Linked DNA regions of Homo sapiens: regions 1 and 2 are each linked to region 3. The links come from fine-mapping of genetic effects on gene expression. A gene starts in region 3. Each other region holds a variant in brackets. All regions are shown on one strand. Distances are between the middles of the regions.

Region 1 (5,224 bases), 170 kb after region 3:
TACTGGAGTGAATAGTGACGGAGAGGAAAAGCTGTCCGATGATACTCAGAACCAGCAAGTATTGAAAGAACAACTTGAGGCCAAGCTCAGTGGCTCACGCCTGTAATCCCAGCACTGGGGAGGTGAAGGCAGGTGGATGGCTTGAGTCCAGGAGTTCGAGACCAGCCTGGCCAACATAGCAAGACCCCATCTCTACTAAAAATACAAAAAATTAGCCGGGCATGGTGGCAGGCACCTGTAGTCCCAGCTACTTGGGAGGCTGAGGTAGGAGAATCACTTGAACCCAGGAGGAAGAGGTTGCAGTGAGCCGAGATCACACCACTGCACTCTAGGCTGGGCAACAGAATGAGACCCTGTCTCAAAAAAAAAAAAAAAGAAAGAAAAAGAAGGCTGGGCACGGTGTCTCACACCTGTAATCCCAGCACTTTGGGAGGCCAAAGTAGGGGGATCACTTGAGGTCAGGAGTTCGATACCAGCCTGGGCAACATGGCGAAATCCCATCTCTACCAAAAATATAAAAAATTAGCCAGGCGTGGTGTTGTGCACCTGTAGTCCCAGCTACTCAGGACCCAGCTACTCAGGAGAATCGCTTGAACCCAGGAGGCGGAGGTTGCAGTGAGCCGAGATCATGCCATTGCACTCCAGCCTGGGCAACAGAGCAAGACTCCATCTCAAAAAAAAAAAAGAACTTGACCTATTAGTGATATCTCACATAAAAGAGAAAATAACACCAACATTGGATTTTGTACCACCTGGGAAACGTCACGTCCCAACACCTTCCTCTGGCTCATCCTCTCCAATCCTCTATGGCCTATGGTCTGGGCATGAATTTCTTTTTTTTTTTTTTTTATGAGGTGGAGTCTTGCTCTGTCGCCCAGGCTGGAGTGCAGTGGCACGATCTCGGCTCACTGCAACCTCCGCCTCTCGGGTTCAAGCGATTCTTCTGCCTCAGCCTCCTGAGTAGCTGGGACTACAGATGCACGCCGCCATGCCCAGCTAATTTTTTTTTGTATTTTTAGTAGAGACAGGGTTTCACCATGTTGCCCAGGCTGGTCTCGAACTCCTGAGCTCAGGCAATCCTCCCGTAGGCCTCCCAAAGTGCTAGGATTACAGGCATGAGCCACCGCGCCCGGCCATCTTTTTTTTTTTTTTTTTTTTTAGACAGAGTCTTGCTCTGTCACCCAGGCTGGAGTGCAGTGGCGCAATCTCAGTTCATTGCAATCTCCACCTCTCCGGTTCAAGTGATTCTCGTGCCTCAGCCTCCCAAGTAGCTAGGATTACAGGCATGCACTACAACACCTGGCTAATTTTTGTATCTTTGGTACAGATGGGGTTTCACCACGTTGACCAAGCTGGAATGAATTTCATTTCTGTTAAGAAGCCCTTTGTAACAAGTTTGGTTGGCTACCTCAGATACACGATCCCATACCTTCCTGGGATCTTCCTTTCGGATCACACAATGAACTTATTTTAGTTATTTCCATAGTTGTACATCTTCTTATTAGATAACCAAGGTTTATGAAATAGAGGAAAAAATTAAAGCATTATAGATCTAAGAGTAAGGCCTATGATTCAAAGCAAAGTCCTTCTGGTTACAATAATCCATTTTGTTGGCCAGGTGCGGTGGTTCACATCCATAATCCCAGCACTTTGGGAGGCTGAGGTGGGCAGATCACCTGAGCTCAGGAGTTGGAACCCAGCTTGGCCAACATGGTGATACTCCCTCTCTACTAAAAATACGTAAATTAGCCGGGAGTGGTGGCGCACGCCTGTAACCCCAGCTACTCGGGAGGTTGAGACAGGAGAATTGCTTGAGCCTGGGAGGCGGAGGTTGCAGTGAGCTGAGATCATGCCACTGCACTCCAGCCTGGGCGACAGAGTGAGATCTTGTCTCTAAATAAATACATAAATAAAATTTTAAAAATAAAAATCTATTAATCTCCCAGGATCATGTACCTAGTCCTAATTATTGAGATGAAATATAAGAAGATATTGTAAAACTCTGTGTGTTATTCAAAAGCTAGTTATGGGAAACAGTACTATCTGACAGTACAGCCAGGATTTGAAATCAAGCCTTCAATCTCCATCAGATTCTCCCTGAACCTCTCCTTGCTAACCCTAATTACTGTCTAGAAGCCTCTCTAAACGTCTCTTAGGAAACCCGAGGCTCTGTGTTTTACTGTTAAGTTGTCCTAAACTCTACCATACGGGAAAATCCACGATGATCCTTGCATCTTTTGTGGTTTTCTGGTTGGTTTTGTTTTGTTTTGTTTTGCTTTGTTTTGTTTTTGAGACAGGGTCTCACTCCAACGCCCAGGCTGGAGTACAGTGGTGCAATCACAGCTCACTGCAGCCTCAACTTCCTGGGTTCAGGTGATCCTCCCACCTCAGCCTCCCAAGTAGCTGGTACCACAGCTGTGCGCCACCATGCCTGGCTAATTTTTGTATTTTTTGTAGAGACAGGGTCTCACTATATCGCCCAGGCTGGTCTAAAACTCCCGGACTCAAGTGATCCGCCTGCCTCAGCCTCCCAAAGTGCTGGAATTACAGGCAGGAGCCACGGCGCCCAACCCATCCTTGCATCTTTTACATACTTCATGCCCTCTCTTCTTTACCTTTTTTCTTTCTTTCTCCTAATTGCATTCAACTCAATCCCTTCTCACATCTGCATGTTGTTCCTCTCTTCTTCCTCCTCCTCCTCATTCTGCGGTTCCCTCCTTCTCATCTTACTTTTTTCTATTGTCTTTTTTTTTTTTTTTTTTTTTTTTTGACAAGGTCTCACTCTGTCACCAGGCTGGAGTGCAGTGGCGTGATCTCAGCTCACTGCACCCTCCACCTCCTGGGTTCAAGCAACTCTCCTCCCCCAACCTCCCGAGTAGCTGGGATTACCGGCGCCCACCACCACACCCTGCCAATTTTTGTATTTTTAGTAGAGATGGGGTTTCACCACGTTGGCCAGGCTAGT[C/G]TCGAACTCCTGATCTCAAGTGATCCAACCGCCTCAGCCTCCCAGAGTGCTGGGATTACAGGCGTGAACCACCACGCCCAGCCTTGTCTTTCTCTTTCGTATCCTCTCTCTTGATTTTTCTTTTTTAGGACACAGGAAGAACCATAGAGAAGATCTGTCAATTCCTGGGAAAGACGTTAGAACCCGAAGAACTGAACTTAATTCTCAAGAACAGCTCCTTTCAGAGCATGAAAGAAAACAAGATGTCCAATTATTCCCTCCTGAGTGTTGATTATGTAGTGGACAAAGCACAACTTCTGAGAAAAGGTAAAAGAAAATCCTCTGGTTTCCAAATATACCAGAATACACGGCATGCATGCCTATGGTCACAACTGGGCGCTAACAGTTGAGATGAAAGAGTGCTTTTTTTTTTTTTTTTTTTCCGAGATGAAGTCTTGCTCTATCACCCAGGCTGGAGTGCAGTGGTGCGATCTCAGCTCACTGCAACGTCCGCCTCCAGGATTCAAGTGATTCTTCTGCCTCAGCCTCCCGAGTAGCTGGAAATTACAGGCACACGCCACCACACCCAGCTAATTTTTGTATCTTTAGTAAAGACATGGTTTCACCATCTTAGCTAGGCTGGTCTCGATCTCCTGACCTTGTGATCCGCCCACCTCGGCCTCCCAAAGTGCTGGGATTACAGGCATGAGCCACGGCGCCCGGCCAATTTATCAGCTTTAATTGCTCATCGCCCAGAACACTTCTCCCGTGGCCTCAGCAGGGAGCCTCTTCTTGTGGTACTGATGTGGGCTGTAGGTGGGTGGGGAAAATTGGTTCCGCCCGGGAAGGTTATCTGACTTACGTGAGGTCATTCAGATTCTCTTTCCTCAGAATGTGACATGAGCATTATCCATTCTACAGACAGTGAGCAGGTTAACTAGCAACCCTTGCTAGACCTACAAGCTGTGATTCACCTGAGAAATGAGGACAAGGACGGGGTTGGGGATGGCCACAGTGCAGCTGCCCCACTGGTGAGTTAGCATAGAGATCTGTCCTGGATGGGCCGGGTGCGGTGGCTCATGCCTGTAATCCCAGCACTTTGGGAAGCCGAGGCGGGCGGATCACAAGGTCAGGAGATCAAGACCATCCTGGCTAACATGGTGAAACCCCATCTCCACTAAAAATACAAAAAATTAGCCGGGCATGGTGGCGGGTGCCTGTGGTCCCAGCTACTCGGGAGGCTGAAGCAGGAGAATGGTGTGAACCCAGGAGGCGGAGCTTGCAGTGAGCCAAGATCGTGCCACTGCACTCCAGCCTGGGCGACAGAGCAAGACTCCGTCTCAAAAAAAAAAAAAAAAAAAAAAAAAAAGAGATCTGTCCTGGATGAAGAAATGTGTGAAGGAATGCCTCACCTGGAAAAGGGAGAGAAGAGAGACTTTGCTATCACACGCTGTAAGGTGCCAAGATGAATGGAAATGTCTATTGCATGGGGTGAAAGAATCCATTTTTCCAGGGCCAGGCGTGGTGGCTCATGCTTGTAATCCCAGCACTTTGGGAGGCCAAGGCGGGTGGATCACCTGAGGTCAGGAGTTCAAGACCAGCCTGGCTAACACGGAGAAAGCCCATCTCTACTAAAAATACAAAAAATTAGCCAAGTGTGGTGGTGGGCGCCTGTAATCCCAGCTACTCGGGAGGCTGAGGCAGGAGAATCACTTGAACCTGGGAGGAGGAGGCTGCAGTGAGCCGAGATCCTGCCATTTGCACTCCAGCCTGGGCAACAAGAGTGAAACTCCGGCTCAAAACAAAAATCCATTTTTCCAAAATCCTACAGTTCTAATACATCTGGGACAGTCCTCCGTGGAAGAAAAGAATTAAATCCTTCAAAAGACCCAGAGTCTTGGGCAATCGTAAAAGTAAACGTTGGCCGGGTACGGTGGCTCACGCCTGTAATCCCAGCACTTTGAGAGACCAAGGCAAGTGTATCACTTGAGCTCAGGAGTTCGAGACCAGCCTGGGCAACATGGTGAAACTCTGTTTCTACTAAAAATACAAAAATTAGCCATGTGTGGTGGCGCCCACCTGTAGTCCCAGCTACTTGGGGTGGGGCTGAGACATGAGAATCGCTTGAACCCAGGAGGCAGAGGTTGCAGTGAGCCGAGATTACAACACTGTACTCCTGCCTGGGAGACAGAGCAAGACTCCATCTCAAAAAAAAAAAAAAAGATAAATGCTGAGACTTTGTATAACTTATCTATATTAGGGATACATACCATACACATA
Region 2 (5,224 bases), 140 kb after region 3:
CAGTTGGATCACCTGAGGTCAGGAGTTGGAGACCAGCCTGGCCAACATGGTGAAACCCCATCTCTACTAAAAATACAAAATTAGCCTGGAGTGGTGACACATGCCTGTAATTCCAGCTACTCGGGAGGCTGAGGCAGGAGAATTGCTTGAACCCGGAAGGCGGAGGTTGCAGTGAGCCGAGATCTTGCCATTGCACTCCAGCCAGGCAATAAGAGTGAAACTCCCTCTCAAAAAAAACAGAAAAAGAAAAGAAAAAAAAACGAACTCACTGTTTCTGGATTCTGTCCTCCCTAACAGGCACCTTACCTTAGAGAGCCTAGAACCCTCAAGGTCCCCAAGGATGTGTGGGATTTGAGTACCGTTGTTGGACATCTTCAGCTTTGTGCAATAGAACTGATGAACATCAACTAATAGGGAAGGCCCACGTAGCTCTGGAGGAAGCGGGGCCATGTAGAACTAAAGAGCACTGTATTAGCTTCCTGTGCCTGCCAGAGCAAACCACCACACTATCGTGGGTTATTCTCTCACAGTGCTGGAGGCCAGAAGTCCAAAATCAAGGTATCGGTCAGGCCACATTCCCTCTGGAGGCTCTGGGGAAGGATCCTTCCTGGTCTCTTCCAGCGCCTGGTGGCTGCAGACCTTCGGTGGCTTATGGCTGCAACACTCCAGTCTCTGCCTCCAACTTCATGTGGCCTTCTACTCTGTGTGCCTGTGTCTTCTCCTCTTTTTTATCTCATAAGGATACTTGTTATTGGATTTAAGGCCCACCAGGTAATTAATGATACTCTCATCTTGAGATTCTTCACTTGATGCCATCTGCAAAGACCCTTTTTCCAAATAAGGTCACATTGGTAGGTTCCAGAGGTTGGGACGTGAACGTATCTTTTGGGGACCATAAGTCACAGATTACAAACACAGACTTGGAATGAAAGTGCCTGGGATCAAATCCCAGCTCTGCCACTTAGGAGCTACATGACTTCGTAAAATGATTAACCACTCTGAACACCCCCTTTTTTAACTCTAAAATAGAGATAATAATAGTTCCCTGGTATGTATGAAAGCATTTATGAAACATCAAGTATTGGCATTTTGTCCTCACTCCTACCTGACTTTATATATTTGATTTCAACTCAACCTCAGATTCATTTCTCAGATGTGATCCATTGAAATTTCAGGTTGTTCTATGTTAGTGAAGATATTTCCCTCCCGACACATCAAGCGCTCAAGCCTTTCTGCCCTCACCTCACTGCAGCATTGAGAAAACCAGTTGTTTAAATTAAGTGAAATTTGGCCTAAAGCTGCCTCCTTATGTGGCAAACTGTAACCTAACAATATATAAACAAACTTCAACCAAACTTAAGAGTAGATGGCTGGGCACGGTGGCTCACGCCTGTAACCTCAGCACTTTGGGAGGCCGAGGCAGGCAGATCATTTGAGGTCAGGAGTTCAAGACCAACCTGGCCAACATGGTGAAACCCCCTCTCTTTTTACAAAAAAAAAAAAAAATTAGCCGGGCATGGTGGCGTATGCCCGTAGTCCCAGCTACTCGGGAGGTTGAGGCAGGAGAATCGCTTGAACCCGGGAGGCAGAGGTTGCAGTGAGCCGAGATCCTGCCACTGCACTCCAGCCTGGGTGACAGAGCAACACCCTGTCTCAAAAAAAAAAAAAAAAAAAAAAGAAAGAAATAATTGAGGGAGTGAGGCTACAGATAATGATATATGAAGCAATCCCACTGGTTAAGCACTTAATCTCCAAAGGTGTTCGTATTTTGTCACAAAAGGTATATATGTAGTCAGAAGAACAATCATATAGAATAAGAGAGAAATTCTGAATTCTGTGTTGAGAACTTACTGTGTTTGGTTTCTGTCCTCCCTTCCTAACATCTTCAATAGCCTGAAACCTTAGCTCCATTAAGGACATCTGGGCACTGGTGCATGTTTTAGGGATCTTAAATTGAGTCTGGGCTTATATGCAGAGGGGAAATTATTGGACAAGATGGGGCCCAGCCCATAGTTAGTGTTCGTATAATTCACCGAGTATCAAATAAATGAAAGGATCAGAAGAGTAAATCTGTGGCATAGGATAAGGGGACAGTTAGCACTCTCCAGGGAAACAGAATCAACAGGAAAGTGATTGATTTCAAGAAATTGGGCTGGGTACGGCGGCTCATGCCTGTAATCCCAACACTTTAGGAGGCAGAGGTGGGTGGATTGCATGAGGTCAAGAGTTCAAGACCAGCCTGGCCAGTATGGGGAAACCCCGTCTCTACTAAAAACACAAAAATTAGCTGGGCATGGTGGCGCACGCCTGTAATCCCAGCTACTTGGGAGGCTGAGGCACAAGAATCGCTTGAACCCAGAAGGCGGAGGTTGCAGTGAGCTGAGATCGTGCCACTGCACTCTAGCCTGGGCGACAGAGCGAGACTCTGTTTCAAAAAAAAAAAAA[AC/C]ACGGCAGGGAGGAGTAAAGAAATTGACGAAATTGACTCATGCAGTTGTAGAGGCTGGCAAGTCCAAAATCTGTAGGGCACGCTGGAAGTTTGGAAGCTTAGAGAGGATTTGATGCTGCAGTCTTCAGGCAGAATTTCTTCTACAGGAAACCTCTTTATGTTCTTAAGGCCTTCAACTGATTAGCTTGGGCCCACCCAGGTTATCGCCATTCATCTCCTTTATTTAAAATCAACTGATTGTAGATGTTAACTGTGTCTACGAAATACTGTCACAGCAACACCTAGGCTAGCATTTGATTAAACAAGTGGGTACTGGGCCGGGCACAGTGGCTCATGCCTGGGAGGCTGAGGCAGGTGGATCACCTGAGGTCAGGAGTTCAGGACCAGCCTGGCCAACATGGTGAAACCCCGTCTCTACTAAAAATACAAAAATTAGCCGGGTGTGGTGGCGGGCACCTGTAATCCCAGCTACTCAGGAGGCTGAGGCAGGAGAATTGCTTGAACCCGGGTGGCAGAGGTTGCAGTGAGCTGAGATTGTGCCACTGCACTCCAGCCTGGACGACAGGGCAAGATTCTGTTAAAAAAAAACAAAAAACTGCGTACTGCAGGCTAGCCAAGCTGACACAAAAGTCTAAACATCACAGACATCATCAGGGTCAACCGGTAGAAATTAAAGGACTTAAATTAGTGTTTCAGTAGGCATGCTTGAACCGGAATAGACACTGTGGGGGGAGGGGCGTGCAGAGTTCTGTGCATCGACTGCTGACTGCTCAGAGTCAGGAAACAAACCATACATATTCTGTTTGCCCCATCTGGGCTATGCCACTATAGTGTCTTGCAATACATCCTAACAATTAGGAACCCTATTAAGGTTGGTGCAAAAGTAATTGCAGATTTGCCATTGAAAGTAATGGCCAAAACCACAGTTACTTTTGCACCAATCTATAGATTGAAACGAGACTGATGATTCCCTCCCTGGAGTCTTATAAACAGGATGGGAGCCATCCAGGCAGTTAGAGGGATTATACTTCCTGGGGGTGGGGGACTAAAATAGAAGTCCACAATAAAACCATTTCCTGGCTGGGCGAGGTGGCTCATGCCTGTAATCCCAGCACTTTGGGAGGCCTGAGTCAGGTGGATCACCTGAGGTCGGGAGTTTGAGACCAGCCCGACCGACATGCAGAAACCCCGTCTCTACTAAAAATACCAAATTAGCCACGCATGGTCGCGCATGCCTGTAATCCCAGCTACGCAGGAGGCTGAGGCAGGAGAATCGCTTGAACCCGGGAAGCGGAGGTCGCAGTGAGTCGAGATCGCGTCATTGCACTCCAGCCTGGGCAGCAAGAGCAAAACTCTGTCTCAAAAAAAAAACAAAAACAAAAACAAAACAAAACAAAAAAACCCATTTCCTATCATCCAGCAGATACCAAATACAGAGCGCATTCAACCTCAGGCATTTGCTTCCTAACTCCTACAATTTGATCTATTTCCTTCTACAAAAAAATTACGTGCACAGCGTCAGAAGGGCAGTGAAAAATGAGGAATGTTCCACTTCTGTTGTTGCCAGGGCGTTCCTAAATATCCTGCAAATGCAGGAGTCCTCTGCCAACGGGTGCTAGCGCTCAAGGCTTTGGCCTGGAATCAGTGTGAAACTTCTGTTCTCTCTTCCTGCAAATCCAGATGGAGCCCCTGGATCATAAAATAAAAACGGGACCAATGTCCAGGAATGGCTCCTATTAGGTTGGTGCAAAAGTAACTGCGGTTTCTTGGCTGGGTGCAGTGCCTCACGTCTGTAATCCCACCACTTTGGGAGGCTGAGATGGGTGGATCACCTGAGGTCAGGAGTTCCAGACCAGCCTGGCCAAAATGGTGAAACCCTGTCTCTACTAAAAATATAAAAATTAGCTGGGCATGGCAGCGGGTGCCTGTAATCCCAGGTACTCGGGAGGCTGAGGCAGAGAATTGCTTGAACCTGGGAGGCAGAGGTTACAGTGAGCTGGGGTTGCATGGTGAAATCCCATCTCTACTAAAAATACAAAAATTAGCCAGGCATGGTGGCACATGCCTGTAATCCCAGCTACTCAGGAGGCTGAGGCAGAAGAATCGCTTGAACCTGGGAAGCGGAGGTTGCAGTGAGCTAAGATCGTGCCACTGCACTCCAGCCTGGATGACAAAGTGAGACCCCACCTAAAAAAAAAAAATCAATAAAAATAAAAAGGCCGGGCATGGTGGCTCACGCCTGTAATCCCAACACCTTGGGAAGCCGAGACGGGTGAATCACGAGGTCAGGAGTTCAAGACCAGCCTGGGCAACATGGTGAAAACCCCATCTCTACTAAATATACAAACATCAGCTGGGCATGGTGGCAGGTGCCTGTAATCCCAGCTACTCGGGAGGCTGAGGCAGAGAATTGCTTGAACCTGGGAGGCAGAGGTTGTAGTGAGCCGAGATCATGCCACTGCACTCCAGCCCGGTCAACAGAGTGAGACTCCGTCTCAAAAAAAAAAAAAAAAAAAAGTAATTGCAATGTCATAAATGTAATGGCAAAAACCGCAATTACTTTTCCACCAACCTGATGGAAGTAGATCCTGGTGCGTTGCCCAGGCATGCCGTTTATAGGTAAATGGAAAGGGCAAAGGTACACAGGGAGATAACTAGATAGCATGAAGCCCTGATCTCAGGTCTTTGTCAGCTTGTGGCAGGTGGAATTAAGCCTATTTAGCAGAAACTCAAAGGCACACTTCCCCTGCTGTACAGTGAACACACGCATTTGTAGAG
Region 3 (5,224 bases):
AGACAGAGACAGGCATGTATACAGAGAGGAAACCATGTGAACATGGAAGCAGGGATTGGGGTGAGGCTCTACTGACCAAGGGCCGCCAAACTATTGCCAGCAAACCACCAGTCATCCGAAAGAAGACCTTGATAGCAGAAGGATCCTGTTCAGAATTCTGTGTTGCATTCAGTCGTAGCTTTTTTTTTTTTTTTTTTTTTTTTTTGGACAGAGTTTTGCTCTTGTTGCCCAGGCTGGAGTGCAATGGCACGATCTTGGGCTCACTGCAACCTCCGCCTCCTGGGTTTAAGCGATTCTGCTGCCTCAGCCTCCCGAGTAGCAGGGATTACAGGCATGTGCCACCATGCCGGGCTAATTTTTTTGTATTTTTAGTAGAGACGGGGTTTCTCCACGTTGGTTAGGCTGGTCTCGAACTCCTGACCTCAGGTGATCTGCCCACCTCAGCCTCCCAAATTGCTGGGATTACAGGTGTGAGCCATCGCGCCCAGCCTCGGCCATGTCTTCTTAGTCTCCTCCAATCTCGAACGGTTCCTCAATCTTTCCTTGATTTTCATGACCTTGACATTTTTGAAGCTTACAGGCCAGTTATTTTGTAAACCATCCCTCCATGTGGGTTCGTCTGACGTCTGATTATGATGAGATTCAGGAATCTTACAGAAGCGATGCTGTTCTCGTGACATCCTGTCAGGTGGTGTGAAATTCCAACTTGTCACATTACTGATGATGTCCACTTTCATTGACTAAGATGGTGTTTGCCACGTTTCTCCACTATAACGTAACTCCTTTGAAATTGGTATTTTGTAGGGAGGTATTTTGAGCTCTGTAAATATCAAACTTCTCACTTAGCTTTTTATTTATCTGAGTATGGACTCCTGGTTTCTTCTGTGGTCCTGTATAATTTGTTACTATCATTATTTATTTTGACTCTCAAACTGCCCAGTATGGCCAATGGAGCTTCTTCAAGCAGACTCCTGTGTTCTTTCCACATGTTCTCACAACACTTTGAGCAATTTCTTGCTTTAAGCATAGGACGTTTGTAGGCTCATCTTGTTCTTTTTTTGCTCTAGACATGGAATCAGCCAAATTTCCTAGGCACTCTGGTTCCATTTGGTGGAGAATGGTATATAGAAGTCAAGATTTGGATGCTAGTGGTGCTCATTCATATGGGCCATCATTGTTTCTATGTTCTCTTAGTGGAGAGAGCTAGAGAATATGTGTACAAATGTTCCTATACACACTGAAACTATGTGTTTATTTTTATCTCTCTATGTATAATTGAGATCCATGAGGACATACCAACGCCTCCAGTTATAGTCCAACACCACAGGGCTCATTCGACTTTCCTCCTTTCTGTCTTAGTAACTCCCTTTTCCAACAGTAGGAGACCTGGCCCCCATTCCCCTTACTCACTGTGTGTAGCCAATTTCCCTTTTCCTTTGCCATTTCACCCCTGTGGGGATGTCTTTCCCAGCCTAGTCTGGCTTCAACACCATACACCATGCTATTCCCATGAGTGGACATTTCTCTCTCTGCTTGGGTTATGACAACCCATGCCAGATCCCCTCTATGTGGCCTCCTTCCTAATTGCCTTACAGTGCAAACCTCCACCCCAGACAATGCCTGCATATAAATGCCCCCGCCCCACTCAGCTCATGTTCCAACACTGCACACCAAGCTGCCCATCTGTGGATTTATCCCCACCATCTCCAGCCCCAACACCCTGGGTCATGCTGCCCCTCTATGTGGACTTCTCCTCACCCCACTACCCCACTGGAATGCTGGCTCTCCACGCCAGATGGCCCCCAGCCCCCTCCTCCCCTAACCCTACCTAGTGTGGAGTCGCAAAACCCCTTTGGGCTTTGACACCACCATAACTTCACACCCTCCCTGACACCCCCACCTTGCTTTTTCCCTCTAAATCATTCAGGAAAGACAGAAGGAAAGAGATGAACAGAGGAAGAGCAAATGCCATGCTCTTAGTCACCGTGTACGCCCACTTCCTGAAGTCCATGCTTGCATCCTGCTCACTCTCACACATTCCCGACTCACCCAGGAAAACTCCCTGAGGCCAGGGGTGCTGAGCTCTCCATCTCACTGCCCAGAGGCCAGTGTTGGAGTGACCCTTCACATGCTTGTTGGAACATTGAATAAATGATGCCGTCTGCTCTAATCCTCCATTTTCTTTTCTTTTTTTTCTTTTTTTTTCTTTTTTTCGAGACAGGGTCTCACTATGTCAGCCAGGCTGGAGTACAATGGTGCAATCGTAGTTCACTGCAGCCTGGAGTGCAATGGTACAATCATAGCTCACTGCAGCCTTGAACTCCTGGGCTCAAGCAATCCTCCCATCTCTGCCTTTGGAGCAGCTGGGACTACAGGTGTGTGCCACCATGCACGGCTAATTTTTTTATTTTTTGTAAAGACAGCCTCTCCGTATGTTGCTCAGCTGGTCTCAAACTCCTGGGCTCAAGCAATCCTCCCACCTCAGCCTCCCAAAGCGCTGGGACTACAGACATGAGCACCACATCCAGCCTCTAATCCCCATTTATAAAATGCACTTTCCAATTCCACTCTGGGGATAAAGGCGTCACAGAACCTGACTCTGCATTTCCCCACCCATATCATTCAAGCCAGATGGGGAGGCAGGGACAGCTCTGGTCCCTCCCCAACCCGGGTAGAGATTTCCAGCCCAGCTGTCACAGCTCTAAGACACCGGGACCGAAGGAGAAGCCAAGAGAGGCAGGAAGAGGTGGCAAAGGAGTGCTGGAGAAGATAAGGAGGCTGAGCTCCGACAGGGAGCAGGGAGGAGGGGCCATCTTGAGACTGGTGCCCTGCGAGCTCCACCCCACCCCTCCATGCAGTTCCCCATGGGCCCCGCCTGCATCTTCTTGAGGAAAGGCATTGCTGAGAAACAGCGGGTGAGGTGGGGAGTGAGGGGGAAGGGCGGTGGGCGGGGCAAAGGGAGCAGGGGTGTGGGACAAAGAAGGGGACATGATGGTGCCACAGAACCAGGGGAACAGGTGGATAGAGCAGGAGCTGAGAAGGTATAAGAAATTCCAAGGACCCTGGTGGGGTCATGTAAGCCAGTGAGATAAATGGGTGGGGGTAAAATCAAAAGTCAGGAGCAAAGAGAAGGAGAGAAAAGGAAGAAAAATGAAAAGGGAAAGTGGGATGATGTCATTGTTGAGATTACCATCATTCTTTTCTATGGATGCTCATTGTGATAATGGTGGTGATGATGGTGGTGGTGGTGATGATAATGATGACGTTAATAACAATAGCTGCCACTTATTAAGTCATTGTTCTGTGCCCAGCCCTGTGCAAAGGGATTTGCACACCTGATGTTATTTACACCTCAGAACAACTCATGAGGTCAGTGACTTTCATTCCCATTTTACAGGTGAGGAAAGTGAAGCTCTGAGTCATGAAGTCATTTGCCTTAAGCTTACACAGTTAGTAAGTGGCAGGGTCGGCCAAGTATAGTGGCTCATGCCTGAATCGCAGCATCTTGGGAGGCAGAGGCGGGAGGATCACTTATGTCCAGGAGTTTGAGACCAGCCTGGGAAACACAAGACCCCATCTCTACTAAAAATACAAAAAAATAGCTCAGCATGGTGGCATGCATCTGCAGTCCCAGCTACTCAGGTGGCTGAGGCAGGAGGATCGCTTGAGCCCAGGAAGTGGAGGCTGCAGTGAGCCCTGATTATGCCACTGCACTCCAGCCTGGGCAACAAAGTGAGACTTTGTCTCGTTAAAAAAAAGTAAGTGGCAGGGTCGGGTTTGCTTGATTCCTGTGGGCATGCTTTTTAAAATTTTTTTATTTTTCCATATATACCAACTTGTCCAGATATGTGGGCATACTTTTCATTGTTAGGCTTTAAGATCACCAAAAAAAGAGAATAAAAAAGGCCAGGCAGTGGCTCACGCCTGTGATCCCAGCCCTTTGGGAGGCCAAAGCAGGTGGATCACGAGGTCAGGAGGTCAAGACCAGCCTGGCCAAGATGGTGAAACCCTGTCTCTATTAGAAATACAAAAATTAGCCGGGTGCAGTGGCAGGCGCCTGTAATCCCAGCTACTCGGGAGGCTGAGGCAGGAGAATCGCTTGAACCCGGGAGGCAGAGGTTGCAGTGAGCCGAGTTCGTGCCACTGCACTCCAGCTTGGGTGACAGAGCGAGACTGTGTCTCAAAAAAAAAAAAGAGAGAGAGAATGAAAAAAAGGGTGATAAGGGACCGCAAGGAGGGGATCAGATGAAAGAGAAGCTGAGGGAAAGGCTCCAGGGATAAAGGGAGATGGGAAGGCTAAAGAGACCAGAGGTCAGTAGAATTTCCTTGTTAACATGCCATGTATATGTAAGCCCAACCCTTCAGGTATGTGCAGGAGTAGGTGGGGCAGCAATAACTGGACATTCTCAGAGTGTTTAGGAACTGGTCATGCTGGCACTGACCCTCCTGCCTGAAAGCCATTGAATGCTGTTTCCATGCACAGAGATTCTAACCTTTGGCAGGAAGATTGGAGGCAGGTGAGAAAGGAGTGAATGGGGGCTAGTGTGAAGAATTCTGACTTGGGAGTCAGGAGCCCTGAATTCAAATCCCAATACTGTGTCTGACTTGCCCCATGACCTCCAGGGAGCAGGTGAATGCCTTCCTCCCTTGGGAGGGGATCTGCTGCTTGTGAGCTGTGTGACCTTGTGCAGGTTCCTTAACCTCTCTGTTCCTCAGCTTTCTCATGGGTAAGATGGAAACGAGATGTAGATCTGCATCACAGAGCAGTACTGAGGTTTAAATGAAATGATTGTGGAAACTGCCTGGCACAGAGTCACCACTCTGAATGAGTTAGCTGTGGTTGTGAAGTCTCACTTTTTTCATCTGGAGATTGGACTCCCCAGTGTTTAAGACCCCCTTTGACACAATGTGATGGGTGTTTGTCTCAGAAAGGGAGAAAAAGGGAGATTGGGATTCGTGGGTGGGAGAGAGACATCGAGAGGGGGGTGGGGAGCCAAGAACTGTGGAACAGGAGTCAGGAGATGGGAAAAGGAATGGGAGGGATGGAGGAGGAGAGAGAGAATGGAAAGAGAACCACGAGAGCGTGGGGAGGAGCTTGGGAGAACAAGGAGACCCTTTGGAGAATGGGTGACCCTCTCTCCAAATTCCCTCTCATCTGCATTCCTTTCCAGGAAAGACCACTGGGACAAGATGAGATTGAAGGTAACACCGTCTTCCCCAGTTG

Evidence for each region. PIP is the estimated chance that this variant, and not a neighbour inherited with it, causes the effect. A credible set is the group of variants that fine-mapping cannot tell apart.
Region 1: its variant is the best candidate, but not a certain one, in a credible set for the expression of CABP5 in whole blood (TOPMed, PIP 0.84).
Region 2: its variant is the best candidate, but not a certain one, in a credible set for the expression of CABP5 in whole blood (INTERVAL, PIP 0.62).

The regions. Positions count from the first base shown.
Region 1 is chr19:47,872,704-47,877,927 of GRCh38, reverse strand. It overlaps SULT2A1 (sulfotransferase family 2A member 1), which reads left to right. Exons shown (of 6, transcript NM_003167.4): 5 at 3,094-3,271. Among named protein-coding and RNA genes, the nearest start is that of LINC01595, 6.0 kb to the right of the region's middle. The variant C/G (reference allele first, on the strand shown) is at 2,966.
Region 2 is chr19:47,896,904-47,902,127 of GRCh38, reverse strand. No RefSeq gene overlaps it. Among named protein-coding and RNA genes, the nearest start is that of SNAR-A12, 8.2 kb to the left of the region's middle. RefSeq lists a silencer at 4,962-5,224 and an enhancer at 4,962-5,224. The variant AC/C (reference allele first, on the strand shown) is at 2,446.
Region 3 is chr19:48,041,551-48,046,774 of GRCh38, reverse strand. CABP5 (calcium binding protein 5) reads left to right here and starts at 2,696. Exons shown (of 6, transcript NM_019855.5): 1 at 2,696-2,915; 2 at 5,172-5,202. The coding sequence starts at 2,853.